Linked DNA regions of Homo sapiens. The protein of the gene in region 2 interacts with the protein of the main gene of each other region in a pairwise test. Each region holds a gene or a part of one and is shown on either strand. Other genes may lie near its edges.

The links.
Region 1: the proteins of RAET1E (region 2) and KLRC4-KLRK1 interact in binary tests that used the Homo sapiens proteins (3 or more experiments, as listed by UniProt).

The regions. Positions count from the first base shown.
Region 1 is NC_000012.12:10,363,879-10,379,246, forward strand, and holds the end of KLRC4-KLRK1 (NKG2-D type II integral membrane protein), read right to left. Parts: intron 14,828-15,368; coding exon 14,676-14,827; intron 14,358-14,675; coding exon 14,254-14,357; intron 10,259-14,253; exon of another isoform or gene 10,157-10,258; intron 9,354-10,156; coding exon 9,236-9,353; 3' UTR 8,475-9,235; downstream 1-8,474. Other genes in the region: KLRK1 (NKG2-D type II integral membrane protein), read right to left, coding at 9,236-9,353, 14,254-14,357, 14,676-14,827.
Region 2 is NC_000006.12:149,891,462-149,907,063, forward strand, and holds the start of RAET1E (retinoic acid early transcript 1E isoform 1 precursor), read right to left. Parts: upstream 6,653-15,602; 5' UTR 6,560-6,652; intron 4,779-6,559; exon of another isoform or gene 4,672-4,778; intron 4,670-4,671; exon of another isoform or gene 4,572-4,669; 5' UTR 4,385-4,571; intron 1-4,384. UniProt on the Homo sapiens protein: Binds and activates the KLRK1/NKG2D receptor, mediating natural killer cell cytotoxicity.

The DNA.
Region 1 (15,368 bases), on a different chromosome or scaffold from region 2:
CCGGGGCCAGGAGAGACCCGGCATCCAAGGTGTGCCACAGCTGAGCTTCACCCGGATATATAGACCAGCTCTCCCCACGTCCCAGCACCCTGCCTGGCAGCGCAATGGAACCGAGGATGGGGCTGCAGGACGATACCAGCACTTCAGGAACTGTGGTAAGGAGTATAGGCCCAAGGCAGGAAAGCCCGTCCCATAGGGACAAAGGGGAGCTTGATCACCTCCCAGGGACTGACCACTAATCCAACCCAGAGTGGCTGGGGGCAGCAGGAGTGGCCTGCCAATTTGGATGAAGCTTATGTCCCCACTAACAAAGTGAAAGTGGTTCACTGGATCTGGAGACAGGAACTGGGAGTGGTGTGTGTATGTGTGTGAATATGGGAGCCTAACTAGGCTCACCCAGGTCATGAGAGAGGCTCATTCCATCCGATGAGGACTCCTGCAGTAGGAGTGGTGTATGTGTGTGAAAGTGGGAGCCTAACTAGACTCACCCGGGACATGAGAGAGGCTCATTTCGTCCAATGAGGAATCCTGGGGCAAGGAAGGTGTGTGAAAGTGTGTGAAAGCGATGGTCTCGGGAGAGGCCAATGCAGGGAGTGACGTGGGGAGGCACAGATCCCTTAGCACGGGCTGTGTGCTCTGAGGCGAGTGTGGGGGGAAATCAGACCTAGGACATTGCATACAGCTGATAGGACGAGCTTTGCAGCTGTAGCAGGCTGTGACAGGGGAAGACACCTTCCTGGCTAAGCAGTGTCCGAAACTCCTGTAATAGGACCGGGTCTGCTGGACCTGAGAGTGAAAGTGAGAGTGAGAGTGAGAGTGTGCCGCAAGGGAGGAAATGGGAGGGAAAGCGTCAAAACCAACTCCTTTGGAGTGCATGATAAAAATTTTAAAGAAAGGATTTAGAGGTGATTGTGGGATGAAACTGGATGTTCAAAAGTTAAAGACATACTGTGAATTACAATAGCCCTCTTTTAGTGTCAGATGGCTGGCCGAAGGCACTGTAGAGAAATTGGCCGTGTGTTTTAAGGTGGTGACTAGGGTCGGAGGACAGCCAGGGCATTCAGACCTAGTCTTTATATTGACTCATGGCTAAATGTACGCAGCCCTGCCTAGCAGTTTATTGTAGAATGCTCGCAGCTCACGCCGAGATAAACCAACTGTGCTGGCAGCTACGGAGTTAAAGGGAAAGTCACAGAGGCTTCTAGCACCACCGATCCAAAAGTGAAAGTGAAAGTCAGCTGCCCTGGAAGCTATGCAGACCAAAAAAAAAAAAGAGTCTCAGGAAAGAGAAAACCAGTTTTGCAAGAATCACAGGATGGAATAGAGATCCTTCCTACCTATATTCCAATCTATCCCCCCTTACCAAGGCTAATTGCCCCTAAGGAGGTAAGTTCAAACAGATACATGCTCCCACTCTCACCTGAGAAGGAGAAATCGGAGCTCCAGGAAGTTAAAACGAAAGGCTCAAAAAGGTAGGCAGGCCGTCTCAGGTCAAGTCATGCCCAAGTTATGCTTCTGCCTCTTAAGAGGACAAGCAGACCCCCACTAGGACCCAGACGATGCAGTCCAGCTTCAGCACCTACAAAAGTGCCGAGAAGCACTTTTACAAAGGCTAAAGGATGTTAAAAGGAAAAGGCAACCAATATAAAAAAATCTCAGAAGTGCTCCATGGTGCAGATAAAAGCACCAGCCAGTTTTATAGGCATTTTGCTTGTACACTCTGTTTAACCCCGAGGCTGCTGAAAATCAGTGAATAGTAAATACGGCATTTGTAAGGCAGGCCCAAGGAGATATCAGGCATAAATTGCAGAAGTTAGAAGCTCCGTAGGTGTGAATGCTACTCAGCTTATTAAAGTGGCTACCAAGGTGTACATTAACTGAGACCAGGAGGCAAAGAAGAAAGCTGATTGGAGGCTTAATAAAGGCTTATTTACAAGCAGCAGCCCTTATGGGAAGAGAGGCTGGCTTTGCAAGGAGGCATAGATGCGGGTGTGAATGCAGTTGTGGAAAAGGCTAGTCTGGACAGCAATTTGAAAGCCAGCCAAGGCTAGAGAGAGATTAATGTACATGGTGCAAAAGAAAAGGACACTAGAAGGATAAATGTCAAAAGAATAAGGAGAATGGTCAAGGCCATGGTATGAAAAAACCACTGGCCAAGGGCTACTGCACCCAGGAGAAACCCAAGACTGCTGTGAAAGGCAGGATATAAAGGGTCAGAAAAAAGCTCAGATCTGCTCGAAAAGTGTCCAGTACTTAAGCTTTTACATAAGCCAAGAGGAAAGATGGCTTAGTAGTGAACAAAAGCAGGCTGTTTGTGCACTTCCTACTCCAACCACCTGGCGTCGAATAACAGAGTTCCTAAGGGCAGCAAAGTTCTTCCGCATTTAGATCCCAAATTTCTTGCTTGTGGCTAAGCCATTATACAAAGCCACAAAGAGGAGGAAAGAAGGACTCCTCCTCTAGGAGGCCAACCAGAAGAAGGCTTTTCAAAAAATCAAAGAAGCCTTGACTCAGATCCCAGCTTTAGGACTGCCAGATCTAACTAACTAAGCTTATCTTCTTGAATGTCCACAAGTGAAAGGGAGGCCATAAAGATTCTAACTCAAGCCATAAGGTCATGGCATTGCCCAGTGACACACTTATCCAGGCAGTTAGATTCTGTGGCACTTGGATGGCCTCCTTGTTTTAAAGCACTAGCTGCTACTGCCCTACTGGCACAAGAAGCTAATAAACTGACTTTAGAGATGGTGAATACCCTAAACCCGGCTACCTTGCTCCTCATCGAGTCAGTGCCAGGAGACCCCCTTCGTTGCTGTGTAAATGTGATAGATGAAGTGTTCTTAAGCCAGAGAGATTTGACAGATACATCCCTCAGGGACCTGGACATTGAATATTTTACTAATGGAAGCAGTTTCATACTAAACGGAGTCCGCCAAGCTGGGTATGCAGTGGTGACTTTGGATTCAGTAGTAGAGGTGCAGTCTTTGCCTACAAAAACTTCTGCTTAGAAAGCAGAACTAATAGCTCTGACAAGAGCTCTCTGGCTAGCCAAAGACCAAAAGACAAATATTTACACATATTCCAGATATGTTTCTGCCACTTTGCATGTTCATGAGACTATTTACAAAGAAAAAATAATTTTAACTGCTGAAAGTAAAGAAATAAAGTATAAGGAAGAAATTCTAGAGCTCTTAAATGCTGTATAGGCCCCAAAAGGTGGCAGTGATGTACTGCAAGGGGCACCAAAAAGGAAGAATACTAAAGGCTAAAAAAATAAAATAAAATAAGAAAACAGACAAAGAGGCAAAGCAGGCTGCAATGACAACTCCACCTTTTAAAGAGGAAGCCTTAGCTATGCCTCTCCTCCCAGAGATTCCTCTCCTGGATATCCCAAGCTACACTCCAAATGAAAGGGCTTATTTTGCCCAGAAAAATAAAAACTACATTAAAAGGAGATGGTAAATATTATCCAATGGGAGGCTAGCCATACCTGAAATGGTGGCCCCCAGATTTTTAAAAGAGTTCCACCAAGGAACTCACATGGAAAAAAATACAACAACAGAAATGAGGAATGCTATATATCAAAATAGATTGGCTTTAGATTACCTCTTAGCCTCAGGAGGAGGAGTATGTGGAAAATTTAATTTAACCAACTGTTGCCTAGAAATCGATGATAATGGTTGAGCTGTCATGGAAATCACCGCTAGAATGCACACATTGGCCCATATTCCAGTTCAGACTTGGTCTGGGTGGTCCCCGGATTCCTTGTTTGGAGGATGGTTCTCAGCCTTTAGAGGATTCAAAAGCCTCATTGGTGGGTTCTTGGTTATTCTTGGCATCTGCCTCATCCTCCCTTGCCTTTTACCCCTGTTTATTAGAAGTATTCAGTCAACTATGGAGGCAATAGTGGCCTGATACACTACCATGCAGATGATGGCATTAACCAGATATCAGTCGCTGCTGGTAGAAGCAGCAGCTCAGCTCCACGAAGACGTGGCAAATAGTGGTGCTTTCTGTTAACACATTTGTTATAAAAAGCACCAAAGGGGGGAATGGAACAGGAATTAAAAGAAATTAAAGAATGTGTAAGCAAAAACTCAGTTGTATGTAAGAAAACCCAATTCCCCCTGAGGAAGAGAAAGAACTGGAGTCCTTTAAAAATTAACTGCCTGTTTTTCCGTGGCTAGTGAGCCTTATCTCTCCCTTTCCCAGGCATTGTGAAGACCCTGTTTCTCTAGCTGTGCAGCTGCAAGGTCACTAGACAGACAAACTCAAGTCATAAAACATGCTTTTCCTTGAAAAGTAAGAAACAATGTAATGTATGTCTCAATTGAATAACTGTCTTTGTTTCTTGCTTCTGTAATATGCTTCCCCCTGCACAAATCTTCCCCCACAGACAAAATACTTAAAAGATAACTTGACTCTTTGTTCAGGGCTCAGTCATTTGGATGTTAATCCAACTGGGCCAGTGCACCTAAATAATAAAAATCCTCCTCAACCCCTTGGTGTTCCTGATTCCTTATCAATCCTGCTACAGGTGGAGAAAAAAGAAAGACCAGCAGAAAAGAAAAAAACTAGGAGAGGAAGTCAGAGGGAAAGAAAGCAAAAACAGCAAGCATAGAGCCAAACAGCCAGGCAGGCACGCCAAGGGGTAAGTCCCTCTCCCCAAAGAGCTTGGGGACTGGTGCCGGGAGGAGAGCAGAGGAGGTGAAAGGGCATAATTCTTGCAATTTGCGGCAGGCATCTGCCAATCCTCTGGGCCGGTGACTGCCTGGGGCCCAGACTACAGCCGGGCAAATCCCACCCACCCAGCCAGAGAAACTAAGTGTAAAAAGAAAGGAAAAAATATAAAAAGGGAAATCAGGAAAAATAAAAAACACAGGAGAAACAGACAGCTGCGTGTGCGTGGGGGTGGGGCCCGTGCCATGGCCCAGCAGGGCTCGCAGCAGGAGCAGGAGAACTTGGGAAAAGAAAGGGAAACAGGATGAGAGAGAGAGAGAGAGAGAGAGAGGAAAATAGAGCGCAAATGAGAGAGAGAGAGAAATAGAGGGAAAGAGTAAGTAAGAGAGAAACTGGAAGAGACAGAAATCAAAGGAAGATACAGAGAGTGAAACTAGAAAAATAGTGAAAAAGGAAGGCAGAAAGTTAAGACATGCTGAAGATTGTCTGTGAAAGTCATAAGAAAAGCTATAAAAGGGAATTTATGCAAAAAATATTGTATAACTGAAAAACAGGCCTCCTGAATGTAAAATTATTAAAAAAAGTTTATGTACAAGGTATGTAAAAAAATACTTTTAATAACAGGATTATAAAGAGGCATAAGAATACAGATTTTTACCTACATTAAAGGCTAAACTTTTTTTCTGTTTTAAAGATTTAAGCAAGTTTTAAAATGTTAATTGTAAAGGAAATTCTGTGTGTTAACATATTGGCTAAAGTTAAAGGGGTATCATCCAGTTTTTCTGTGAACTGGATATTACAATAAAATCACTATAGATTTTTCTTAAAGCACTAACCTGCTCTTTAACAAAAATTATAAAAAGTTAAAGAATCTATAAAAGTCTTACCTTATAGTTAGACATTAAAATTGGATAAATAATGTCTACAAGATTTTATTAAAATTAAGTTGAACATCAATAGCACATTAATATAATGGTAAAATTTAACTTATCTGGTATAAAATCATACAAAAACATTGTCAAATATAAAATGGTGTTTGGCTTTCTTAAGGCCTAAAGGCAACCCGGTAAGTCACAAGGACCCTCATCCCCAAGGCCACAGAGTGCAGGGTGGTGAAGGCCATAAGAAGGCCAAACATTAAGAGGGGGCAGGGCCACAGTGTCTCCTGGGCAGCGCTGAGCAGGAATAGAGCAAGGGGCATAACCATGAGGCCTCAAGCCCCAGGATATGCAGCAGAAATTATATACTTAATCTATCTTCCACTTTCCCTTCCCTTGGAGCTAAAAGTCTTTTAGCACAGGTAGCACCCCTAGAATTTCCAGTACACCAGCACCAGCCTGAAAACCACATCCTTATCAAAAGATAGAAAGAAAAAAAAACTCAAGCCAGCCTGGGAAGAACCCTATTTTATGCTATTAACCACTGAGACTGCCGTCCGCACAGCCAAGAAAAAAATGGTCCCACCATACTCGAGTCAAGAAAACATCTTCCTCTCAGAATCATGGGTTACTGTACTAGGATTAAGCCCTACTAAGTTAAAGTTAAAGAAAGCTTAATTTTCATATACCTTCTATATCGCTTCCTTTCCTTTCCGTATTTTGTTACTAGCTCCGTTGTTATTAATGTAACTAAGTCTGACTCACCTCAGACCATTGCCTTTAACTCTTGCTCTGTCATACCTTGTGGAAATGTAAAATATCAACAACAGCTAGCCTTTTCACACAAATATTTATGTCCCAGCCCTCTAACTGACACAGGTACCCCTAGCAGTCATTGTTGTAATGACCTGCAGCCAAGATGCTGATTTTCTGCTCCTACAGGCTGGCAACCTTGTAGTAAATGGGACCACATCCCTTAAACTACCCAGGAGCAAAGCTGGACTTCCACGAAAAAGGTTTGTGCAAATCTAAAACCCCTCATCTATTTCACTAAAAGGACTACCCCTTCTCACTGTCAGCCTTATCAGTGTAACCCTGTCCTTCTCTTTATCACCACCTCCACCTTAACTAACTCTAGACCTGCCCTTAGTCGCTTCTGTGGTATGGGGATTGACATAAATGGAAAAGACCCCCTAGGTATTTTTAAAATATGGATTTTTCCCCCATCTCCCCCTTCTTCAGTAGCCTCAGTTCTAGATCCCACACCAGTTGCTCCTACATCTAATAAAACTAGGGTGTCTATTGTAAAAATAAGATATCTAAGACAGACCTTAGCCATCAAGACAAAATATCAAGATGCAAATTCCTGGCTGAAATGGATTAAATAATCCATTCACACTTTAAATAAAAGCGATTATTACGCTTGTACACACGGTAGGCCAGAGGCCCAGATTATCTCCTTTCCACTTGGATGGTCTCCTTGTCATCCAGATATGGAGTGTATGGTGGTTCTTTTTCAAAATCCCACTGCTTGGGATAATCCATCATACTGAGCGCTCTCTGCTATTTCCTGAAATTCAACACCCTGCGGGTCAGCCTCCGAGGGCAATCCAGCTTCCACCTCTAAATGCCAAGTTTACTTTGTGCCTCTCATGGCAGGAGGAAAATTTGGCGTTCCTTGAAAGCATAAAAGGATACAAGAAGCCCAAGCCTTTCCAAGAACTTGCCCATCAGTCCATGCTTAGCCATCCCCAAGCAAATGTATAGTGGTACTGTGGAAGACCTTTACTGGACACTCGGCCAAATAACTGGAGCAGTACTTGTGCTCTAATCCAATTGGCTATCCGCTTCACGCTGGCATTTCGTCAATCTAAAAAGGTAAAAACAAAACACCGCAGGCCAAAGGAAACTCCTTGAGTCCTTTAATCCTCAGGTTTACGTAAATGTTATTAAGGTCCGTGAGAAGTGCCAAATAAGTTTAAAGCACAAAAATCAAATAGCTGCAAAATTTAAATCCATGTTGGTCTGGTAGGTAACCATAAATTAAAAAAAAATTTAACTTCAATTCAATTCTCACCTCGTTTGCCCTTACTATTGGTGTACTTATTCTTGTAGACTGTTATATTATGCCCTGCCTTCAAGGTTTTATGCAAAAACTTGTCTCTGCTGCTCTTACAGAGTTAACTCCTAACTATCCTCCACCCTATTGAAAAAAAATTACCTCTCTTAGAAGGACAAAGAATTAAGTCAAAACATATTAAACAAGACTGAGGAGGAATTATGAAATAAAAAAAGGGGGAATATTGTAAAAAGTAAAGTAGAGGTTCCTCTTCAAAGACTTTCCTCCCCATCTAATTAGAAATAAACAGTAACTTCTCTTAGAAGCAAAATTTATTCAAAGACCTGTGCTCCTAAATATTTGCCCTGGCATGCTTATACTGGTCCAAGCAAGCGTTAGGTCATAGCCTGTTCCTCTTCCTTATTTAAAAGTGTTTTTATCTTTCTCAGCATTCCACAAGTTACTTCCTCCTTCCTTTGTTCTCCTCTACCTTTGCCTCTTTTAAAAAGTTCTAAGTTGCTAGCCAATCGGGACAAATACAGAATGTGAGGTCCCGTTCCAGCCAGTGGAAACCGGACACAGCAGTAGTGTGGACATGTCAGGTTATAAATGACCCTGTCTCCTTTGTTCGGTGTACTCTCATGGCAGAACTGCTAGTGAGTGTACCCTTTCTGCAGGAAGTAAAAAATGGCCTTACTAAATAAATTAAATTTATGTTCAAGTCCTATTTCTTTATGACACCGGGGAACAAGCATTTCAAACAATTCCATTCTAATAACCCCAAGTCTTAGCTTTTTACGGAATCAATTGTAAAGTCTAAAGTCCAAAATCTTATCTAAATATCATCAAACAAGATATGCATGAGACTCAAGATTCTATTTATTCAGAGGCAAAATTCCTTCTTAACTGTGAACCTGTGAAACCAAACAAGTTATGTGCTTCCAAAATACAATAGTGGGACAAACATAGGATGGATATTACTATTCCAAAAGGAAGAAAGAGAGGAAGAGAAACAGTCATGGGACTCAAGCAAGTACAAATCATAGCAAAGGAAACGTCCTAAGATCTTACTTAAGGCTGGAGAATAATGCCTTTAAGATAATCATGGCCCACTGGGGCAGCACCACCTCCCTGACCCCGTTGGGTGGAGGACCCATTAAAAGTGGCAGCATGACCCCCACAGGCAGGGAAGGCACTGCCCATGCTGTGTCTCTCTGCTGTGGCCCTGCCCATGAGGCAATTTCCTGTGGAGGGTGGGGTTGCACTCTCAGTGATCTGCTGGCCTTCTCTTCCTTCACTGATCCCCTGGGTGTTGGTCCTACCTTTAGAAATTAAAACAGCACCCCTCCCCCAGCCCATCCACTCTGGGCTTGTGGTGGGAGAGGCAGCCTTGGGGATATCTGAATTGCCTTTAGGATCTCTCTTCTTTTGTCTTGGAGAATCATGCATGTTTGCAGTGAAATTGTTCTATGGTTTGGTCCTGTGGAGTCTAAGAAATCTGACAGTCTTTGGTCATTTTGTCCTGTTTTTGTTTGTTTCCTTTAGTCTCAGTTGGCAGTGTTACCGCTGGTGTAATCTCTTCTCTGTTCCTGGCTTTTATTGAGATGGTTGATCATCTTTACACAGTCCTTTGCATGCAGATGTACGTATTTGGAGTTGAACAGTTTTCTATATAGCCTTTAAAGCTCGAGGCATAGAGTGCACAGTCTCCCTTCTGCATTTCAATTATTGTTAGTCTAGAGGAGAGACAATTACAAATTACATACATGATTTTATTAACGCGGGAAAATAAAAATGAATCATACCTATTGAACTTCAAATACAGGAACTTAATACCATTTTAGGAGATTATGGACCATGCCTGGTCCTAATTCATAAACAAAATATAGCCAACTCAGATAATAAAAATAAAAATTATAAATAATGCGCCACTCTTTTTATCATACATCAGAAACTAGCCAATTCTGAAGTCTAAAATCTCTTCATATGTATACCCAAGTTAAATGAAAACTTTAGAATGTTTATTTTAAAACAAATATTTAAGTGAGAAATAAATTCAGTGTTCAATTTAGAATTTGATACTGTGTTTTGTGGAAAAATAAAACATTTTCTTCAGATATATGCAATTTTACTTGGTAAGGAAATGAAAATAAAATTTCAAATCTAATACATACATACACACATTCACAAGTGTGTATAAGTGTGTGTGTGTGTGTGTGTGCATATGTTTAGGCATTCCATGTGGAGATTTCTATATCTATATATGTGTTTTACTCTGGCATCTTTAATCTTTTGGAGTTATATGATTAATAATGATACTTTGTTTTCTTTCATAAGAGATGGGAAATAGAAAGCTCAAGAAAGAGTGAGGATGTCACTTCAATGTAAAATTGACAAAAAAATAAAAAGATTATGGTCTGATGCTATCCCTATTTAAAAAGACGATGTAATGATCTCTGTTCTGTAACTGAACAATCGGCCACTGTAGGGAGAAAACTATTCTTAAAGAGTTTTTGTTTTGTTGTTTGTTTGTTTTTAGACAGAATCTTGCTCCGCTGCCAAGGCTGGAGTGCACTGGTTCAATCTCGGCTCACTGCAAACTCTGCCTCCCAAGTTCAAGTGATTCTCCTGTGTCAGTTTCGTAAGTAGCTGGGATTACAGGCATGTGCCACCACATCCGGCTAATTTTTTTATTTTTAGTAGAGATGGTGTTTCACTACGTTGCCAGGCTGGTTATAAACTCCTGACCTAAAGCAATACACCCACCTCGGCCTCCCAAAGTGCTGGGATTACAGGTGTGAGCCACTGCACCCGGCCCCAGCTGAGATTTTTTAATAACTGCTCTTACTAGGTTCAGTCTACATTAGAGTCTCGTTCTTTTTTTCTTTCTTTCCTCTCTCTCTTTTTTTTTTTTTTGACAGTGTTTTGCTCTTGTCAGCCAGGCTGGAGTGCAGTGGCGCAATCTCGGCTCACTGCAACCTCCACCTCCTGGGTTCAAGCAATTCTGCTGCCCCTCAGCCTCAGGAGTAGCTGGGGTTACAGGCACTTGCCACCACATCTGGCTAATTTTTGTATTTTTAGTAAAGATGAGCTTTCACCATGTTGGCCAAGCTGGACTTGAACTCCTGACCTCAGGTCCTCCCAAAGTGCTGGGATCACAGGCGTGAGCCACTGCACCCGGCCTCATTCTTTTTAATATCACTTTGTCCATGTGTTCCTTCGATTTCTTTCTCTGTTTTTTCATACTACTTTCATTACACTTCTGCCAGAGTACCTAACTAACTACACTGGATTATTTGTTTGTAACTACATCTCTGACTAGAGTTTGAAGCTCTAAAATGAGTTTTATTCTACTCATCTCTGTAGTTATCTCTGCATAATTCCTGGAAATTGTGCAGTAATCAACCAATATTTACTACATGCATAAACAGAAAGTTAGTATGCTAGTTGTTTTGCTTCTGAAAAAAAATTTTGTCCTTGTAGATAGGAAAATATTGAGAAACTATGATATAAACTCTTATTTTTTAGAGAATCAATGTTTTTTCTGTTAAAAAAACTCTCAAGCCATACATAAATGAGGCCATCCTGGATCAATTCTAAGGTATACTGGGGCTTCCAAATTACAAATAGATAATAAGGAAGGAAGGTAGGGAGTTCTTGCTACAATAAACACAAGGGGAAAATTGAAAATAACACATGAGAGTAAAAGGTTGTGCATTGATCATTGCCAATTAATCATTAAAGTAGCAAAGTAAATTTAAAAATCAGCGAAAAGAGCACTTTTTTAGTCATTTAATAGTAAGTCTGGCTCCAGAGCCAGAAATATATATATTTGAGTCCTCATTGCAACAATTATTCATTTTGTAACTTAAGTGAGTTATTTAACATGTTAAGATTCTGTTGTATACCATTAGAATTAGGTTAAAATAACACCTGTATACAGGATTGTTAAGTATATTTAATGAAAGGATACATTTAAGTGCTTAAATCTGTGTCTGACAGACAGGAAGCACCTAATTAACCTAATTTTAACATTGATATTGTTGTGACTTTTTATTACATTGAAGAATTGGAAATTCAAATATCTAAAGTCCCCTTGAAATAAAGAATTATAATATTTACAATCTAGAGGACTTCTGCAATATTTGTGATATTATGAGACTGAAAAAAGGAAAAGCAGTAGTGACAAAATGCTTAGGTTTCATTCCTGATCGTTGTAGCTGAATGAAGAAATTACTGAACAGTGTAGTGACAGGTCAGATCTTTCAAATGGTAGAAATGACCTTTCTTGAATACTCTAGCATTAATCTGGAGAATTACAACTATATTCATAAGATCAGTGAACATTAAGATGTTGTCACTTAGTCTGGGTGTGCTGAATTGCTCTGTGCAATCAAGTGGGTAAAAGAGCAGGCTATAAAAACTACAGACATGGGACACTTCAGAATCCAGAAAGACCAAGCTGTAGTTCACCGGACACAGAAATGGAGATAAGAGATTTGAAGAAATAAAGAAATGTAAAGATATGCAGAAGGTCACCTTTGAATATTCAGCAGAGTACTTACTAATGCATGTATGTAAAAAACTACTCCAGGATGGAGAAAGAACTGTCTGAAAAGATTTAGGGTAAACAATACTTAGTGCTAACATAGGGTCTAGTATTTTGCCTGTTTCTACCAGCCATATTACAAAACTTTGTATTTCAAAGGTTATCACATAGAATACATAGAAAACAGCAGAATAAACATTTCTGATCAAATACACCTAAAACATTTTTAAAAACACACTATAGTCTAGTCCATAACACTGATGTCAATAAATTTAAGTTTTAAATTATACAAAATAATTCGCTAATGAAAATGAAATTAAATTAGAAATCAATAATAAAAATGTCTGAAAAATTCACAAATGTTGAAAACTAAATGACACATGTAAATAATCAATGAATCAAAGAATGCAAAAGACAATTTAGAAACTATTTTTAACTGAATGGAAACAAAAAGTAGTATCTCAAAATATGACGGGATGTTGCCAAATCATCTCACATATTAATAGTATAACTTTTATTAGAAAAAAAGGTTTCAAATCAACATATCAGCTTTCAATATAAGAAACTAAAAAAGCAAATTTAACCTACTATAAGAAGACAGTAAATAATAAAGATCAAAGCAGAAATCAGTGAGAAGAAAATTTTTACCTAAATGGCAAATAAGCACACACAAAAAAATGCTACTTAACATCATTGCATTAGTAAAATGCAAGTTAAAACTACATTCATATACCAAAACACATCATTTAGTGTGTCTGAAATTTACTTATTTATTTATTTATTTATTTATGAGACAGGGTCTTGCTCTGTCACTCAGGCTGGAGTGCAGCGGCGCAATCTCGGCTCACTGCAACCTCCGTCTCCCGGGTTCAAGCCATTCCCCTGCCTCAGCCTCCCGAGTAGCTGGGATTACAGACACCTGCCACCCCGTCCAGCTAATTTTTGTATTTTTAGTAGAGACAGGGTTTCACTGCATTGGCCAGGTTGGTCTTGAACTCATGACCTCAAGTGATCTGCCTGCCTCGGCCTCCCAAAGTGCTGGGATTATAGGCATAAACCACTGCACCCAGCCAGTATAAAATTTAAGAGGCTGATCAAAACAAGTGTTGACTAGGATGTGAAGCAACTTCTCTGTCAGATTTTCTCTTACATACTGCTAGGTAGAAAGTAAAATTTGTAAAATATCATCACCACTTTGGATAACAGTGTGGCACTTTAAAAAAAGTTAAGTATATACTTATATGATTCAGCCATTTTGTTTCTAGGTGTTTATGTTAAGGGAAAGAAAGATTTCGTTAATATGATACAAATACTTGTACACAAATATTATTAGCAAGTAGCATTATTTGTAATGATCAATAACTGGGAATTACCTAAATATACATCAATAAATGAAGAGATAAAAGGAAATTAACTCTTTACTCATGCAATGAGATGGCTGAATCTCAAGATAACTTTTCTAAGTGAAAATAAGACATTGCAAATGATATATATTGTAGGACTTCATTTATATTAAATTCTATGAATTGCAAACTAATCTAAAGTGACAGAAAACTGATTGACTGGAAAGAGAAAGAGGTAAGGACATAGGGACACAGAGGAGAAATCACAAAGGTGCATGCTTAGAGAATGTTTTCCAGGTAATTTATATGTTAACTATCTTGATGTTCTTTATGTTTTCATGGGCTCATATAGTTCTCGAGACTTATCAAATTGTATACTTTATATATGTGCAATTTATTATATGTTAATTATATCTCAACATGTCTGGTAATAAATTCAAAAAGAAATGTATGTAATATTTAACCTCTCTGTTTCTGTCTCTTTATCTGTAAAACGAACATATTAGACCTGCCTTCCACAGTACTTACCATATAGTAAACAATTTGTATTACTTACTAGTATTTGTGTTGGCTGCTCTACAACTAATACAACTTTCTCCCAAATTTAGGGCCTAAGCACTTTTTACTAAATCTATTAGAATGTGCAAATGTCCTGGGATTATGTGAGATGAGTGATTAGAATTATTACAGGGAAAACTTAGGAAAAAAATTAAAAAGAAGAGACTCATTGGGTCAGAGACTTACAGGTTGGGTGAGAGAATGGAGCCATCTTCCCACTGCCAAGATCCATTTGTTGGAATGTGTACTAGTCCCATCCAATGATATGACTTCACCAGTTTAAGTAAATCCTGTTTGAAACCACAAATAAACTATAAGTAAAATCAGTGTTGATAATTTTAGTAAACGCAAGACCATAACCATTTCATCTGTTCTCACACTTGTAAAAAAATGCATTCTGTCCACTAACTGGCATAATTCTCATCCGAGCACACATACATGATACCTACAATTTCTGTGCTTTGTTATTTTCAATGAAGAAAGATTTAGGGTTGGTATTAGAATAACCAAGTCACAGTGTCCCTTATATGTTCTAGGTTCATATTCCAGTGAGTTGTCTCAGATGTTAGGATTAAATACAGGATGGGAAATTAAAATAAATACTCAACCTGGTCCTCTTTGCTGTATACTTTCAGAAGGCTGGCATTTTGAGACATACAAGAAGCCTGGCTCTCATACCAGTTTTTACTCTCATCAAAAAATTGGTAGCAGTTATTTTTGTAACATATCCAGTTTTTAGGACATGGGCCACAGTAACTTTCTGGAAAAGGAGAATATATTATTAATTCTACACATCTGAACCATTATAGCAGATTTTGTCTAGACAAATTAAATGCCTTTTTCACTCCAACTCTAAAATTTCAGATTATTAAATTATTACAGTCATAACCAAAGGCATATCTCTACATATTCATAGAGAGAAGCCAGGCTGGGTGTGGTGTCTCATGCCTGTAATCCTAGCACTTTGGGAGGCCAAGGCAGGTGACTCACTTGAGGTTAGAAGTTTGATACCAGCCTGGCCAACATGGTGAAACCCTGCCTCTACTAAAAATACAAAAATTAGCCGGGTGTGGTGGCTCACGCCTGCAGTCCCAGCTACTTGGAAGCTGAGGCAGGAGAATTGCTTGAACCTAGGAGGTAGAGGTTGCAGTCCCAGGTACTTGGGAGGCTGAGGCATGAGAATTGCTTGAAACTGGGAGGCGAAGGTTGCATTGTGCTGAGATCACCCCACTGCACTCCAGCCTGGGTGACAGAGTGAGACCCCATCTCAAAAAAAAAAAAAAAAAAAAGAGAGAGAGAGA
Region 2 (15,602 bases):
GGTCTACCATGACAGATGGGTTTTGTGTGTGTGTGTGTGTGTGTAATTGTAATAAAACATATTGAGTCACTCAATAAACACAGAGTGTCTACTACATGTATCAGGCACTATCATAGATGCTAATTAACGAAACTGAAATGGCCAGGCCCTCACAGTGGCTCATGCCTATAATCCCAGCACTTTGGGAGGATGAGGCAGGAGGATCACTTGAGGCCGGGAGTTCAAGACCAGCCTGGGCAACATAGTAAGACTCCATCTCTACAAAAAAAAATTTTTTTTTATTATACTTTAAGTTTTGGGTTACATGTGCAGAACGTGTAGTTTTGTTACATAGGTATATACGTGCCCTGGTAGTTTGCTGCACCCATCAACCCATCACCTACATTAGGTATTTCTCCTAATGTTACCCCTCTCCTAGCCCCCCACCCCGTGACAGGCCCTGGTGTGTGATGTTCCCCTCCCTGTGTCCATGTGTTCTCATTGGTCAACTCTCACCTATGAGTGAGAACATGTGGTATTTGGTTTTCTGATCTTGTGATAGCTTGCTGAGAATGTTGGTTTCCAGCTTTATCCACGTCCCTGCAAAGGGCATAAACTCATCCCTTTTTATGGCTGCATAGTGTTCCATGGTGTATACGTGCCACATTTTCTTAATCTATCATTGATGGACAAGTTTTGCTATTGTGAATAGTGCCACAATAAACATACGTGTGCGTGTGTCTTTATAGCAGCATGATTTATAATCCTTTGGGTATATACCCAGTAATGGGATCACTGAGTCAAATGGTATTTCTCGTTCTAGATCCGTAAGGAATTGCCACACTGTCTTCCACAATGTTTGAACTAATCTACACTCCCACCAACAGTGTAAAAGTGTTTCTATTTTTCCACAACCTCTCCAACATCTGTTATTTCCTGACTTTTTAATGAACGTCATTCTAACTGGCGTGAGATGGTATCTCATTGTGGTTTTGATTTGCATTTCTCTAACGACCAGTGATGATGAGCATTTTTTCATATGTCTGTTGGCTGCATAAATATCTTCTTTGGAGAAGGGTCTGTTCATATACTTTGCCCATTTTTTGATGGGGTTGTTTTTTTTCTAGTAAATTTGTTTAAGTTCTTTGTAGATTCTGGATATTAGCCCCTTGTCAGATGGATAGATTGCAAAAATCTTCTCCCATTCTGTAGGTGGCCTGTTCACTCTGATGATAGTTTCTTTTGCTGTGCAGAAGCTCTTTAGTTTAATTAGATCCCATTTGCCAATTTTGGCTTTTGTTGCCAGTGCTTTTGGTGTTTTAGAAAGGAAGTCTTTGCCCATGCCTATATCCCGAATGGTATTGCCCGGGTTTTCTTCTAGGATTTTTATGGTCCTATGTCTTATGTTTAAGTCTTTGATCCATCTTGAGTTGATTTTTGTATAAGGTGTAAGGAAGGGGTCCAGTTTCAGTTTTCTGCATATGGCTAGCCAGTTTTCCCAACACCATTTATTAAACAGGGGATCTTTTCCCCATTGCTTGTGTGTGTCAGGTTTGTCAAAGATCAGATGGTTGTAGCTGTGTGGTGTTATTTCTGAGGCCTCCATTCTGTTCCATTGGTCTATATATTTGGTACCAGCACCATGCTATTTTGGTTACTGTAGACTTGTAGTATAGCTTGAAGTCAGGTAGCACGGTGCCTCCAGCTTTGCTCTTCTTGCCCAGGATTGTCTTGGATATGCAGCCTCCTTTTTGGTTCCATATGAAGTTTAAAGTAGTTTTTTCCAGTTCTGTGAAGAAAGTCAGTGGTAGCTTAATGGGGATAGCATTGAATCTATAAATTACTTTGGGCAGTATGGCCATTTTCACGATATTAGTGCTTCCTATCCATGAGCATGGAATGTTTTTCCATTTGTTTATGTCCTCTCTTATTTCCTTGAGCAGTGGTTTGTAGATCTCCTTGAAGAGGTCCTTTACATCCCTTGTAAGTTGTATTCCTAGGTATTTTATTCTCTTTGTAGCAATTGTGAATGGGACTTCACTCATGATTTGGCTGTCTGTTTGTCTGTTATTGTTGCATAGGAATGCTTGTGATTTTTGCACATTGATTTTGTATCCTGAGACTTTGCTGAAGTTGCTTGTCAGCTTAAGGAGATTTTGGGCTGAGATGATGGAGTTTTCTAAATATACAATCATGTCATCTGCAAACAGAGACAATTTGACTTCCTCTTCTCTTGTTTGAATGTACTTTATTGCTTTCTCTTGCCTGATTGCCCTGGCCAGAAGTTCCAATACTATGTTGAATAGGAGTGGTGAGAGAGGGCATCCTTGTCTTGTGCTGATTTTCAAAGGGAACGCTTCCAGTTTTTGCCCATTCAGTATGATATTGGCTGTGGGTTTGTCATAAATAGCTCTCATTATTTTCGGATATGTTCCATCAATACCTAGTTTATTGAGAGTTTTTAGCATGAAGTGGTGTTGAATTTTATCAAAGTTCTTTTCTGCATCTATTGAGATAATCATGTGGTTTTTGTCATCGGTTCTGTTTATGTGATGGATTACGTTTATTGACTTGTGTATGTTGAACCAGCCTTGCATCCCAGGTATGAAGCCAACTTGATCGTGGTGGATAAGCTTTTTGATGTAATGCTGGGTTCGGTTTGCCAGGATTTTTGCATCAATGTTCATTAGGGATATTGGCCTGAAATTTTATTTTTTTGTTGTGTCTCTGCCAGGTTTTGGTATCAGGATGATGCTGGCCTCATAAAATGAGTTAGGGAGGATTCCCTCTTTTTCTATTGTTTGGAATAGTTTCAGAACTCCTCTTCTTGAGGAGTATCTTTGTGATGTTCTCTGTATTTCCTGAATTTGAATGTTGGCCTGCCTTGCTAGGTTGGGGAAGTTTTCCTGGATAATAACCTGAAGAGTGTTTTCCAACTTGGTTCTATTCTCACTGTCACTTTCAGGTACACCAATCAAATGTAGATTTGGTCTTTTCACATAGTACCACATTTCTTGGAGGCTTTGTTCATTCCTTTTTATTCTTTTTTCTCTAATCTTGTCTTCTCTCTTTATTTCATTAAGTTGATCTTCAATCACTGATATCCTTTCTTCCGCTTGATTGATTTGGCTATTGATACTTGAGTATTCTTCACAAAGTTCTCATGCTGTTTTTTAGCTCCATCAGGTCATTTATGTTCCTCTCTACATTGGTTATTCTAATTAGCAATTCGACTAACCTTTTTTCAAGGTTCTTATCTTCCTAGCATTTGTTAGAACATGCTCCTTTAGCTTGGAGTTGTTTGTTATTATTCACCTTCTGAAGGCTACTTCTGTTAGTTCGTGAAACTCATTTTCTGTCCAGTTTTGTTCCATTGCTGGCGAGGAGTTGTGATCATTTGGAGGAGGAGAGGCGTTCTTGTTTTTGGAATTTTCAGGCTTTGCGCACTGGTTTTTTCCTATCTTTGTGGATTTATCCACCTTTGGTCTTTAATGTTGGTGACCTTCAGATGGGGTCTTTGAGGGGACGTGCTAATCCTTTCTGTTTGTTTCTTTTCCTTCTAACCATCAGGCCCCTCTGCTGCCAGTCTGCTGGAGTTTGCCGGTGGTCCACTCCCAACCCTGTTTACCTGGGTATCACCAGCGGAGGCTGCAGAGCAGCTAAGATTGCTGCCTGTTCCTTCCTCTGGAAGCTTTGACCCAGTGGGGCACCTGCCAGATGCCAGCCAGAGCTCTCCTGTATGAGGTGTCTGTCGGCCCCTACTGGGAGGTGTCTCCCAGTCAGTATACGTGGGTGTCAGGCACCCACTTGAGGAGGCAGTCTGACCCTTAGCAGAGCTCGAATGCTGTGCTGGGAGGTCTGCTGCCCTCTTCAGAGCCATCAGGCGGGGACATTTAAGTCTGCTATAAGCCCCTGATTGGGGCTGCTGCCTTGTTTACCAACATGCCCTGACCAGAGAGGAGAAATCTGGCAGTCTGGCCATAGCAGCCTTGCTGAGCTGCAGTGGGCTCCGCCCAGTTCCAACTTCCCAGCAGTTTTGTTTACACTGTGACCTTAAAACCATTTCCTCAAGCCTCAGCAACGGCAGAGGTCCTTCCAGATGAGTTTTGTAATAGACTCCAGCAGTCCTACTGGGGCCAAGACCTCAAGGAAAGCCAAGTCTATCATTGGGAAAAGTCTTAGGGCTCTAAGTTTTGAATTCTGAAAATTTTTCTTAGAACAAAATTTTGTGTCATTTTCAAATAAAGCACAAGTTTTCCTCATAAAACTTAGTATCTGTAGACCCCCTTCCCACCTCACTTTTACAGCTGTCCCATTTGATCATCAGACCCTGCTACCTTAGCCAGTTCAGGCTGCTACAACAGAATAGACAAGGTGGCTGAAACACCAAGCATTTATTTCTTACCTTCCTGGAAGATGGGAAGTCCAAGATCAAGGTGTCAGCAGGTCCGGTATCTGGCGAGGGCCCTCTCTTCCTCACCAGATGGCTGTCTTCCTGTTGTATCCTCACACAGTGGAGAGCAGAGACAGACAGCAAGCTCTCCTATCACTTCTTAATCCCACATGGCTCCACTCACATGAGTTATGACTTCCTAAATAGCATCACCTTGAGAATTAGGATTTCTGCATATGAATTTGGAAGGCAGGCAAACATGCGGCCTGTAACACCACCCATATCCGTTCCACATCTAGGTTCCCTCTGTGTGCCGGGCAGTATGCCAGTTAATTCAAGTGCATGTCAGACCCAGAGGGTGACATCCTGTGACTCAGATGCTAGGGCCCTTATGATGCCTGGTAAGGTAAGTGGGTCTTTACCACTGTCCTTTCTTAACTAGATGGAACAGACTTCAAAGAAAGTAACCATGGACTATCGGCAGGGCTCTATCTCTGGGGCTGGGGGATAAGGGGTTGTCTGCTCAGAGGACAGTGGGTCAAGCGTTTGAAGGAGCCGAGGAATGCACATTTTTTACATGTCCCCTATGTGGTTCTCTGTCTGCTAAGGTTAAAGAACCTCAATTTTGAGGGTGCACTTCCACCTCTTGGTCTGGAGAAGGGGTCTCAAATCTGTCCTGAGTGGAGCCTGTTCTGTACACATCCAGGCCCTGAGAGTACACAGAGAGGAACTCACTGCTACCGCCCTGCCAATACTGCTGCTGTGGGGACACCAGCGGGGGTGGGCCAAGAACAGAGTGTATGTGTGTGTTTGTGTGTGTGTGTGTGTGTGTGCATGGGTGCTTGTGTGTGTGTGCGTGCATATGTGTGATATGACCACTGAGTAGCTCCTTAGCAGGGCCAATATTTTCTACAAGTCTGATGACTCACAGGAAGGAGCACACCAGGCCTATACTTGGGTCCTGACATCTGGGATGCCAACCTAACACTGAAGAAAAAGAAAGAGCTGCAGACAGGCTGGGAAAAATATACAGAAAGGGGAAAGGGGCCCTTCCACCTTTGTTGCCCTCTGTGGTCCTGAATCTCAGCTTGGCCTGAGCCAACCTGAAGATGGGAAGGAATAGCCATTTTCCAACTGCAAAATGTCAGCTTCAGGCAATGGTTTCAAAACTGAAGTAATGGTTACATATGAAGTAGATTTTTGTTTGTTTTGTTTTTTGAGACCAGGTCTTGCTCTGTCATCCAGGTGGAGTGCAGTGGCATGAGCACGGCTCACTGCAGCCTTGAACTCCCAGGCTCAATCAGTCCTTCCACTTCAGCCTCCAGAATAGCTGGCACTACAGGCATGAGCCACCACACCCAGCTAATTTTTAAATTTTTGGTGTGGAGATGGGGTCTCATCACGTTGCCCAGGCTGATCTCGAACTCCTGGGCTCAAACAATCCTCCCCCCTCAGCCTCCCAAAGTGTTGGGATTACAGGAGTGAGCCACCACACCCGGCTGAAATGGAATTTTAATTGAAGTAAGAAGCGGGTGATAAGGAAAGTGAAACCAATAATTTCACATAGTCCCTGGAAGCCCGTTGCTATAAAGAACTTTCAGCCTGAAGTCCAAAGAGAGACGAAAATTTTAAAATGAATTGGACTGCAGTTTTCAATCCCTGAAAATGAGTCACAGCCTTTTTGTGGCAGTGTGCCCTGGGCTTCTAACCGTCCTCTCCCTGCCCCAGCTGCCTTGAGGTCCCGGCCAATGGTTTCAACACTCAGGCTAGGAATGCCAAGGCCCGGCAGAGCGAGGCTGTGGAAGCCTTGGCATAAGCGGAAGGGAGGATCTGAGGGAGAATGGGACAAGAGAAGTCGGAAAGAAGGAGTTAGGGCAGGAGAACAAGGAGAAATCCCTGTCCCCCAAATTGGAGAGAGGGGCGATTGGGACTCCAGACTGGAAGGAGGCACGGATCCCTGAGTGCTTGGTGTGGAGGCAGAGGACCCGCAGAGCCACCCCGTCCTCCCTGCCTTATCCAGCGTCCCCGCCGCCACACCCCCAGCATCTCCCCCAACCCCACTTTTACTTCATTATCTGCCCCTGGTTCTCTCACCACTCGAGCCCCTGCTTTCCTCCTTCACTCCCAAACATGCACACGTTCCCTCTGCACGGGTGTTTGGAACACCAGCCATCCCCCACCCCCTACCTTGTGCCAGCAGGAGATGTTTGTCCTTCTGCCGTCTCTAGGATGGAGAGGCCTGAGGTGACTGCTTCCTCAGAGTCTCTGTGCAAACTCTCTGAGGAGCAGAAACCAGTTCAGTCTCTCTGGGTGTGGAGAGGCCGGCCTAGCAGAACACCCGTCCACCATGCAAACCGGGTGGGGCCACCTGTCAACTGTCACGTGTGAGTGATTCTAGGACAGGGTAACTCGTCCAGAATTGGATCCAATTCAGTACTGGATTCACCATCAGTAGAAGGACCAAGACCAGACTCAAGTCCCAGCCACGAAATTCTAGAAAGGATTTAATGTAATTTTAGCAGTTGTTGGAGACCAGCATGTGATGGCATACATATGTTTTCCTTGATATGTAGGTGGGGGCCCCCACCTTTTTTCAGGGTTTAGGCTTCTGCAGGTCCTGGCATAGCTGTGACAGCGGCCCTACCTCATTTCTGGTGGGTGCTGGCTCCCTCTATTGCTTGGTTTCTGTGCAAACACTGCATTATCGTCCTGCCCTCTTGAGACCTGGAGCTCCTGCCCCCTGAGCTCGTGTTCGCACTGTGTGTCACTGAACCTCGCTGTTTTCTTCTTGCAACTCCATTCCCCTCTGCAACTGGAAGACCAGCACTTCTCCTGAGTCTTCCTTAAAAGACACCCTGCCCACTTCCTTACAAAGCCCCCACCAAAGTGACACCAGCTACTTGTGAATGTAGCCAACTTTACTGAAGATTTAGAGGTTATGTTATAAGGCTGTGAATAATTTAAAAAAAAAATCACCTATTTGCTCGACCTCTTTCTTATCTCTTCTTTGGACTAGAAATAAAATATCTATGATTTGACCACACTGTCATCTAGTACTCGACCCTGGTTCTAGGCCACCGTCCTCCTGGCCAGGGTGATTGCAGTGCTGCCCTACTTGGTTCTCCGTGCCTGTCCCCACCTCCCAAATGGCTACAGCGCAGCCAGAGTGATCTTCAGAACCTCATCACTCACGCCCCCCTCTGCTCCAATTCTCCAAAAGTGCCCTTTTTCTCTCAGTAAAACCAAAGTCACTACAGATGCCTAGAGAGCCCTGCACAGTCTGGCCAGCTGTCCATTATGCCCCCTCACTCGCTCAGTTCCGACCTCCACCCTCGGCCTCCTTGCTGGTCTTCAGAGCCCTGCAGATGTCCCCGTGCCTTGGGACTTTGCATTGCCCTCCCTTCAGCATGGACTGCCCTTCAGGCATCTGCCCGGCTCACTCCCACTCCTGCTCCCAGGTGGCACACCCTTCCACGCCTGGTTCTCCCTGCCCCTCGCATTTGGAACCCTTGTATTTCTTTCTTTCTTTCTTTTTTTAAAATTGTGGTATGATTCATGTAACGTGATTTTTCATCTTAACCACTGTTAAATGTAAAGGCCTCTATTTCATAATGGGAGACCTCTGCCTGCCCAGGCCATCCTGGACCTTCTTCACCTGAACTTGTTCCCCTAAAGCAATGACCACTTTAAAACATACCTTAGTAAGCCGCGCACAGTGGCTTACACCTGTAATCCCAGCATTTTGGGAGGTCAGGGAGGCTGGATCACCTGAGGTTGAGTTTGAGACCAGCCTGGCCAACATGTTGAAACCCTGTCTCTACTAAAAATAAGAGAATTAGCCGGGTGTGGTGGCCAGTGCCTGTAATCCCATCTACTCAGCTTATTGAGTCAGGAGAATCACTTGAAGCCAGGAGGCGGAGGTTGCAGTGAGCCGAGATCACGCCACTGCTTTGCAGCCTGGGCAACAGAATGAGACTCTATCCCTATAAACAAACAATCAAACAAACCTTATTAACTTTTAATTGTGGTTGCAACAAATTACTGCAAATTTAGTGCCTTAAAACAACATACATTCATTCTTTTACCATTCTGGAGCTCAGAAGTCTGAATAGTCTCACGGAGCTATCATCACTGTGCTGTCAGGGCTGTGTTCCTTTGGGAGGCTCTCGGGGAGAACCTGTCTCCTCCTTGCCTTTTCCAGCTGCTCAACTGCCCACGTCCATGGCTCAGGACCCCATTTCCTCATCTTCAAAGGCAGCTCCACCAGGCTGAGTCCTGGTTTACATGAGAACACTACCCCTCCATGGCTGGTTTTCCCAGGGCAGCTGATTAGCCACCTCAGCTCCATCCACAGCTTTCACCGCCCTTTCCATGTACCCCAACACAGAGGTTCCAGGGACTGGATCTGCCATCCTGAGGATTGGAGAGGGAATTCTTCTGCCCAACACACATACCATATAATTTACATATCTATCCATTTAAAATTTCTATCTCTTACTAGAATGCCATTTCTGTGAAGACAAAAACCTCATACAAGGCACAGAAAACAGCTCCCCAGGGGTGAAGGGGCTCAGATGGGCCCCCTGGCTCAGGGAACAAGGAGAGGTGTCAGGGCAGCCTCCCTGGGTCTCCAGCCTTCACAGCCGGTGCCTCCCAGGCAGGTTCCAGCCACAGCAGCAGCAAAAGAGATGTGGTGGGCAGCATCAGGCATTGGCGAGATTCCTGACACAGTTCAGTCGAAAAGAAACTTCCTAAACTGAGCTCACCTCAAGGAAGCTGGAGATAAATGCCACCTTACCCAATGGGTACATGAAATACAAATACAAATCCTTTTCCAGGTTGTGCAGGTTACAACTGGCCCAATTCTATGCCTGGTCCCCTGCCCTGTCCTGCTGTGACTTGCCAGGGTGGGGTGCTCATTGGCCTCCAGGCTCCACTCACTTTTCTGACCGCACCCAGTTTCCACCTCCAAGTCACCCCCCAGACTGCTTCTCCTTTTGCTGTTTTTTCTCAGCCCAGCAGAAATTCTAATATTCGCCAGGCTTGGCCCTGCTCAGGGCACCGGAGAAGGAGCCTCTGAGGAAAATCTTGGCACAAGGAGCAGCTCTCCCACCTGGATTTCCAGCACCCTCTGTTTTCTGGGAACTCCTGAATTTCTCTGGCCATTGGCACAGGGGCTCTGCCACGCAGTTCCCCTGGCGGCTGGCCCCTGACATCTGGCAAAGAGTTAGGAATGCAGGTGTTTCTGGCAAATATGTAGGGCCTATGAGATAAGAAAGTGGGGGAAGCAAGATCACGTAGGTTCTCTGTGAGAGAGGCCGCATGCCCAGCAGGACAGAACATCCCTGGCTGACAAGGGCCATCTTCCCCTGTCCTTATCTCTGCCTGGGCTCCAGCTCCGTCCTGCCTGACAGAGGCCGTGGAGCAGAGCACTGGGCTGCTGGTCAATGTCCTGGTCTTTAGATAGACCAGTCTCCGGATGGGGTCACAGTGGGAGAGCAGTGGGCCTGGGAGGTGCAGGGTTAGTGCAGGGCAGGGCTGCCTTGAATCTGCAGGTGCGGGGCCACCAGGCTGGACCTATCTGTATGCTCAGCACAGGAGGTTGCAGTATTGCCTGCCCTCAACCTCCTTTTCCTATTTCTGCTGCTAGAGGGCACTGGGGACTGGGGTCAGGCTGGGGGTCTTGCCATCCCCTCCTGATCTCCTCCACTCCCTGTCCACAGCTCCTGATTTCCCTGCCTGGGCTGCCCCCACCAGAAGTCTCCAGGCCTAAAATCCAGTAGGAACAGGCAGCCTAGCCTGTCCCCAGGGGTTTCTTTAGCACTTGCAGGAGTCAATAAGGCTTCAGGTAGGAAGGCCTGATGCCTTCCTCATCCACAGACGCCTAACAGGTGTTTCTGGAAATGTATCCTGTGGCAGCCAAAGAGGCTGGACTCCTCAGTGTGTTTCCAAACAGAGCCAAACACAGAGTTCATCGGTTGGAGGAGCCCAATCAGCTGCTCATTAGTGTGCCTTTGACAAGCCTTTGTACGGCGGGGAGGAAAAATGATTTTCATGAAAAAAACAAACAAACAGGAGTTTATTATCTATCTATCTATCTATCTATCTATCTATCTATCTATCTATCTATCTATCTATCTATCTATCGTCTCTTGTATATACACAGGAAACACCTGGAGAAAACAAGTAATCCTTAAAGTGCTGGCTTAGAGCTCCAGCATCTTCAACAGAAAACAATAAACGTCTAGAGAAGTGGCAGATCATGGGAAGGCCAATCTATGGCATCAGAGAAGCTTGTGGTGCCTCTGCTGCTGTCCCTAGGCCTGACAAGAGTCTGAAATTGTCTTTGGTGATCAACCTTTGTCCTTTCTGGTAGAGAAGGGAGGATACAATCAAAAGTGGCTCAATAATAACTGGAAAATAAATGGAAAAGAAAGATGTTCATTTCATCCAGGTTCTTGAATTCATTGACATACGGTTGTACATAGTATTCCCTTATAATCCTTTTTGTTTCTGTAAAGTTGGTAGGGATGTTTCTTCTTTCATTCCTGGTATTAGTCATTTGAGTTTTATCCCTCCACCATTTACCTAGTCATTCTAGGTTAAGGTTTGACAATTTGGTTGATCTTTTCAAAGAACCAACTTTTGGTTTTATTGAGTTTGCCAATGTTTTTCTATTCTTTATTTCATTTATTTACACTCCAATTTTTATTTCCTTCCATTTGTTATTTGGGGCTTAGGTCGCTTTGCTCTTTGAGTTTCTTAAAGTGAAATATCAAGTTATTAATTTGACATAATCCTTTCTTTGTCCTGTTCTTTCTCAGTATACTGGCATTTACAGCAGTAAGTTTTCCTTTAAGTGCTGCTTTATCTGCTTCTTATAAATCATAGTATGCTGTGTATTTGTTTCCATTCATCTCAAAGTATTTTCTAATTTTCCTTGTGAGTTTCCCTTTCGTTGATTGGTTCTTAGAATGTTTATAAAATTGTTTGTCTTAAAGATGATTCTGCCTGATATTATTAATAGCAATTTCAGTTGTCTTTGTTTACTATGGATGTGTTTTATCTTTTCCATATGTCTACTTTTAAACTACTTGTATCTTGGGATCTACATTGTATCTTTAGATCATTTTTTAAATGCATTCTGAGAATCTTTGCTTTTTCTTTTGAATGTTTATCACTTTGACATGTAAGGGAATTACTGCTAAGGTGGAACAGAATTTACGTCTGCCACCTTTTTCTTAGTTTTCCATATGCACTATGTCATTTTCTTCATCTTTTCCACCACTATTGCTTTGTTTTGTGTTAAACAGATATTTTCTACTGCATCATTTTACTTCCTTTATTGTCTCTTTTTCATTTTTTATTTAAAAAAGTTATTTTGTTAGTCATTTCAGGGGATTCCAATTAATATCTTAATTTACCACAACCTAGATCATATTAAAACCAACTTAATTTTAACAGGATGCAAAATCTCTGCTCCAATATTGCTCTGCTTCTTCCCCCATCTTTGTGGTATAAAAATGATATATACATAAATTATATGGCATGTGTTTTGCAAAGAATAATCACCTGCCACCCCCACCCACTCCCGCCAATCCCAGAGGATGCCGGTGTGAATCCCTGGAACCCCCCACTGGGTTATATGGAAAAGGGAGTGAAGGCTACAGATGGAGTTGAGGTTGCTCATCATCTGCCCCGGAAACGGGGTGATTTTCTGGATTTCCCTGGGGTTCCAATGTAATCACAGGATCTTTATAGAGGAAGAGGCAGACGGAAGAGGGAGAACCAGATGAGGGGCACAGTGAGGACTTAATCTGATGGAACTGCCTTTGAAGATGGGGAAATGGGCCCTGAGCCATGGATGTGGGCAGTTGGAGAAGCTGGAAAAGGGGAGAAGGAGACAGGTTCTCCCCGAGAGTCTCCTGAAATAACAGCCCTGACAACACAGTGATGTTAGCCCATTGAGATCCATTCCAACTTCAGATCTCTAGAATGGTAAGAGAACAAATTTGTGTTATTTTAAGCCACTAAATTTGTAATTTCTTACAATAGCAATCAAAAGCTAACACTGTCTGTTTTAAAGTGGTCATTGCTTTAGGAGGAAAAAGTTCAGGTTAAGAAGGTTCAGGATTGCCTGAGCAGGCACAGATACTGCCATTTTAAATAGATGCCTGTACATTTGAAAACGGTTGAAATGGCTCCTGGCTGTGGCAGGGCAGCAGGCTGGGGCCATGGCAGGCCAAGTGCAGGCCCAAATCAGACTGCAGGAGCTTCACATACACTCTGGGCAGGCACCTGCCTCTCAGTAGCTCACTGAGAGATGAGGGCACCCAGCAGGGGTCCCCAAGGGAAGGCACAAAGAGGGAGCCAGCCTGAGATTAAGGGGCTGTGAAAACAATGCTTTTCCAGAAGTCCTAGCTGGTTACCTTCACAGCTGCTTGCAAAACAGAGAAATTCTACATCCACTCACAGCAGCCATGTCCACAGGGTGCTCCAGACGGCCAGGAAGTTAAAGTCACGCCACCTGGCTGTGGAGATCAATGAGGCTGAAGTGCAACAGGAGCAGCAGGAATCCCTCCTGGGAGATCTCCAGGATGACATTCCCCCAGGTGACAGCCTACCAGGCCCGTGGAAAGCCCTGGCTAGTAACCTCACAGCTGCAGTGTGGCAAATCAAACAGAGCTGGAGTTGTCTGGTAGATCCTTGGAGCAGGTGCTGCTGCCCCACATGGACACCTTCCTGCAAGTGCATTTCGGCCCCATCTGAAAGAGCTTAAAGGAAAGCTTGCATGGCTTTTCCCCGGACATAACAAATCTGTTTCTTGATGTGGAGGCCAACACCAGGCCATCACGATGGTCCAGGATAGTGCTGTGGCCAGGGCTGACTGCCAGGAGCTTGGTGGTAAATTTGAAGCCAAGATCCAGGAAAATGCTCAGAGAGTGGGCCAGCTGTGAAAGGATGTGGAGGACTGACGGCATGCTCGGTGCTCTTCCCTGTACACTCCCTCTCTGAGGTCCAGGCTGATGTGGACACCAAATTGAAGAGGCCAAACCCAGGAGGCCCCAAGGACTAATGGCAGCTGCGTGTTGATGACGGCAGGGGCTGGGGCAAGGCCTGAACTGGAGAGCCTGCAGGCCAGGCTGGCCAACTGCAGAGGAACCTCTGGGTGCTGCACATGGACTCAGCCTGCAGGGAGGAGGAATTGCAAAACACCCCTCAGGGATATGAGGGCTACCCTGACCCGGCACGTGGATGAGATGAAGGAGCTGTGCTCCGAATTGGACGAGACCTTCCATCAGATCAGCAAAATGGAGCCAGAGATGGAGGTGAACCACAGGGCGCTCTGTGAGCTGTGTGTGGTCCTGATGAAGCCTTTAATTATGGAGGCAAACAAGGTGGAGGTGGAGTAGCAGCTCCTGGAGCTCAGCCTCACCCTGCAGCACCTGTGGGGCGACCACACTGACCTCATCAAGTATGTCAAGGAGGCAGCTGCCACAAGCTCTACTTTCACTTGGAGGCCGTCCGGGAGTGCCACGGGGACACCACGCACCCTGAAGGAGACCCAGGGGAGCCTGGATGGCGGCGCCAGCTGCACAGCTCCTAGGCTGCCCTGATGGAGGCCTGCTGGCCTCCCTCTCTGGGGAGGAGGTGATGGAGGAGAGGTCAAAGGAGGCGCACGGCCAGCTTCCCCTGCCCGTGAGCAGATCTGCCTGGCCCTGAAGGAGCAGGTGCTCGGTTGGGACTCGCTGGCTACCCGGGTGGCAGCCCTGGAGCAGGCCACGAGTGGGCCGTGGCTTGGAGCCCCCATGGCCGGCAGAGCACTTGGAGCTGGCGACCACTTGGGCCCAGAAGAAGCTGTGTGAAGCCCTGGCTGGGCTGGCTCAGGAGCTCCAGCTCCTGAGATCTGACTTCAGTGGCTCGGGTGGTGCTGCAAGGCTGCCCAGCCACCTCTCTCACCTGCCTCGGGGCCTCCATGGTCCGCCTCCGAGTGCAGCTTGGACTGCACCAGCTGCTCCTCCTTGGAAACTTCCAAGAGCTGGTGACAGCAGTGTCAGCCTAAATCTGGGGAAGCTGGAAACCGTGCCCAGCAGGAAAAGGAAGCAGAAGCAGAAAGGCCCAGAAGTTCCCCGGAAGAGGGACAGGAAAGAAGCTGAGCCTTTGCCAGACACACACATCAAAGGGCCAGTGCCAGATGCCTTGAACACTGAGCTCTGGCAGGCAGGCTCCCCTGTGGCCTTCTATGCCAGTTTCTCAGAAAGGACAGCTGCCCTGCAGACATGGAAGTTCAACACTAGCTACATCGACACTGACAGCAGCAACTTCCCTGAACATGGCTACTACCAAGCCGGAGTTTGGTGTCCCATTTGCAGTGAGCATTGAATTTGGCCCAGGGCCAGGAACCAGGCACCTGGTGTTTGGAGGGCTCCATCAGGGACCCTGGGCGGGAAGCACAGCAGCCACCTTTGCCATGGCTGAGCTGCGAAAGGGTGAGAGAGTGTGGTTGGAGTTAACCCAGGCATTGGTAACAAACAGAAACCAGCGAGGCACTGCATTTGGGGGCTTCCTGATGTTCAAGACATGAACCCTGGGCCCAGCTCTGATTGGACATCATGGACTTGCCCAGCTCTCCTTGGTCTAGGGCTCTGGCCAAGGATGGTCTGCAGATCATCCTGTTGGTCTATCTCTTCCCTGGACAGCTTCTGCGAGAGAGTGTGGTGTACGTGGTCTCTGTCTAGCGCACTGGGTTTGGCTATTTCTCAATGACAAGGGGGACTGGACTACTTCTCTGGGTGGGACCTGGTTCTGAGCTTGGTATGCCTTCTCAGACAGCACAGGCTGGACTCCAGCCCTTTGCCATACTGTGTATTCTACAGCTGCTTTGGTGGCGTGCTCCTCTTGTGGATGGAAGCTTCTGTGCAGCACTTTAACTCTTTCTCCTGCTTCCTATTCTCTTCTCCCTAATTGTTGGCTACAAAGTCATCTTTCCCAGAAGGAGTCTCTAAGATGGAGGTGACATTTGGACAGTATTGGAAAGCAGTCTCCAACGACTAGAGGACAGTGGAATAAAGCCAACCTGTTTGGTCTCTGTCAGCCAGAAATGGAGAAGAAAACCTGGTTGAGTCAACAAGAGAAAGAAAATTAGTATCTTTCGTTTCAGTTATTCCTTGTATTTATCTGTAATTTTAATTTCATATCTTTCTCTCCTTGCCATACACAGAGCAAAGGC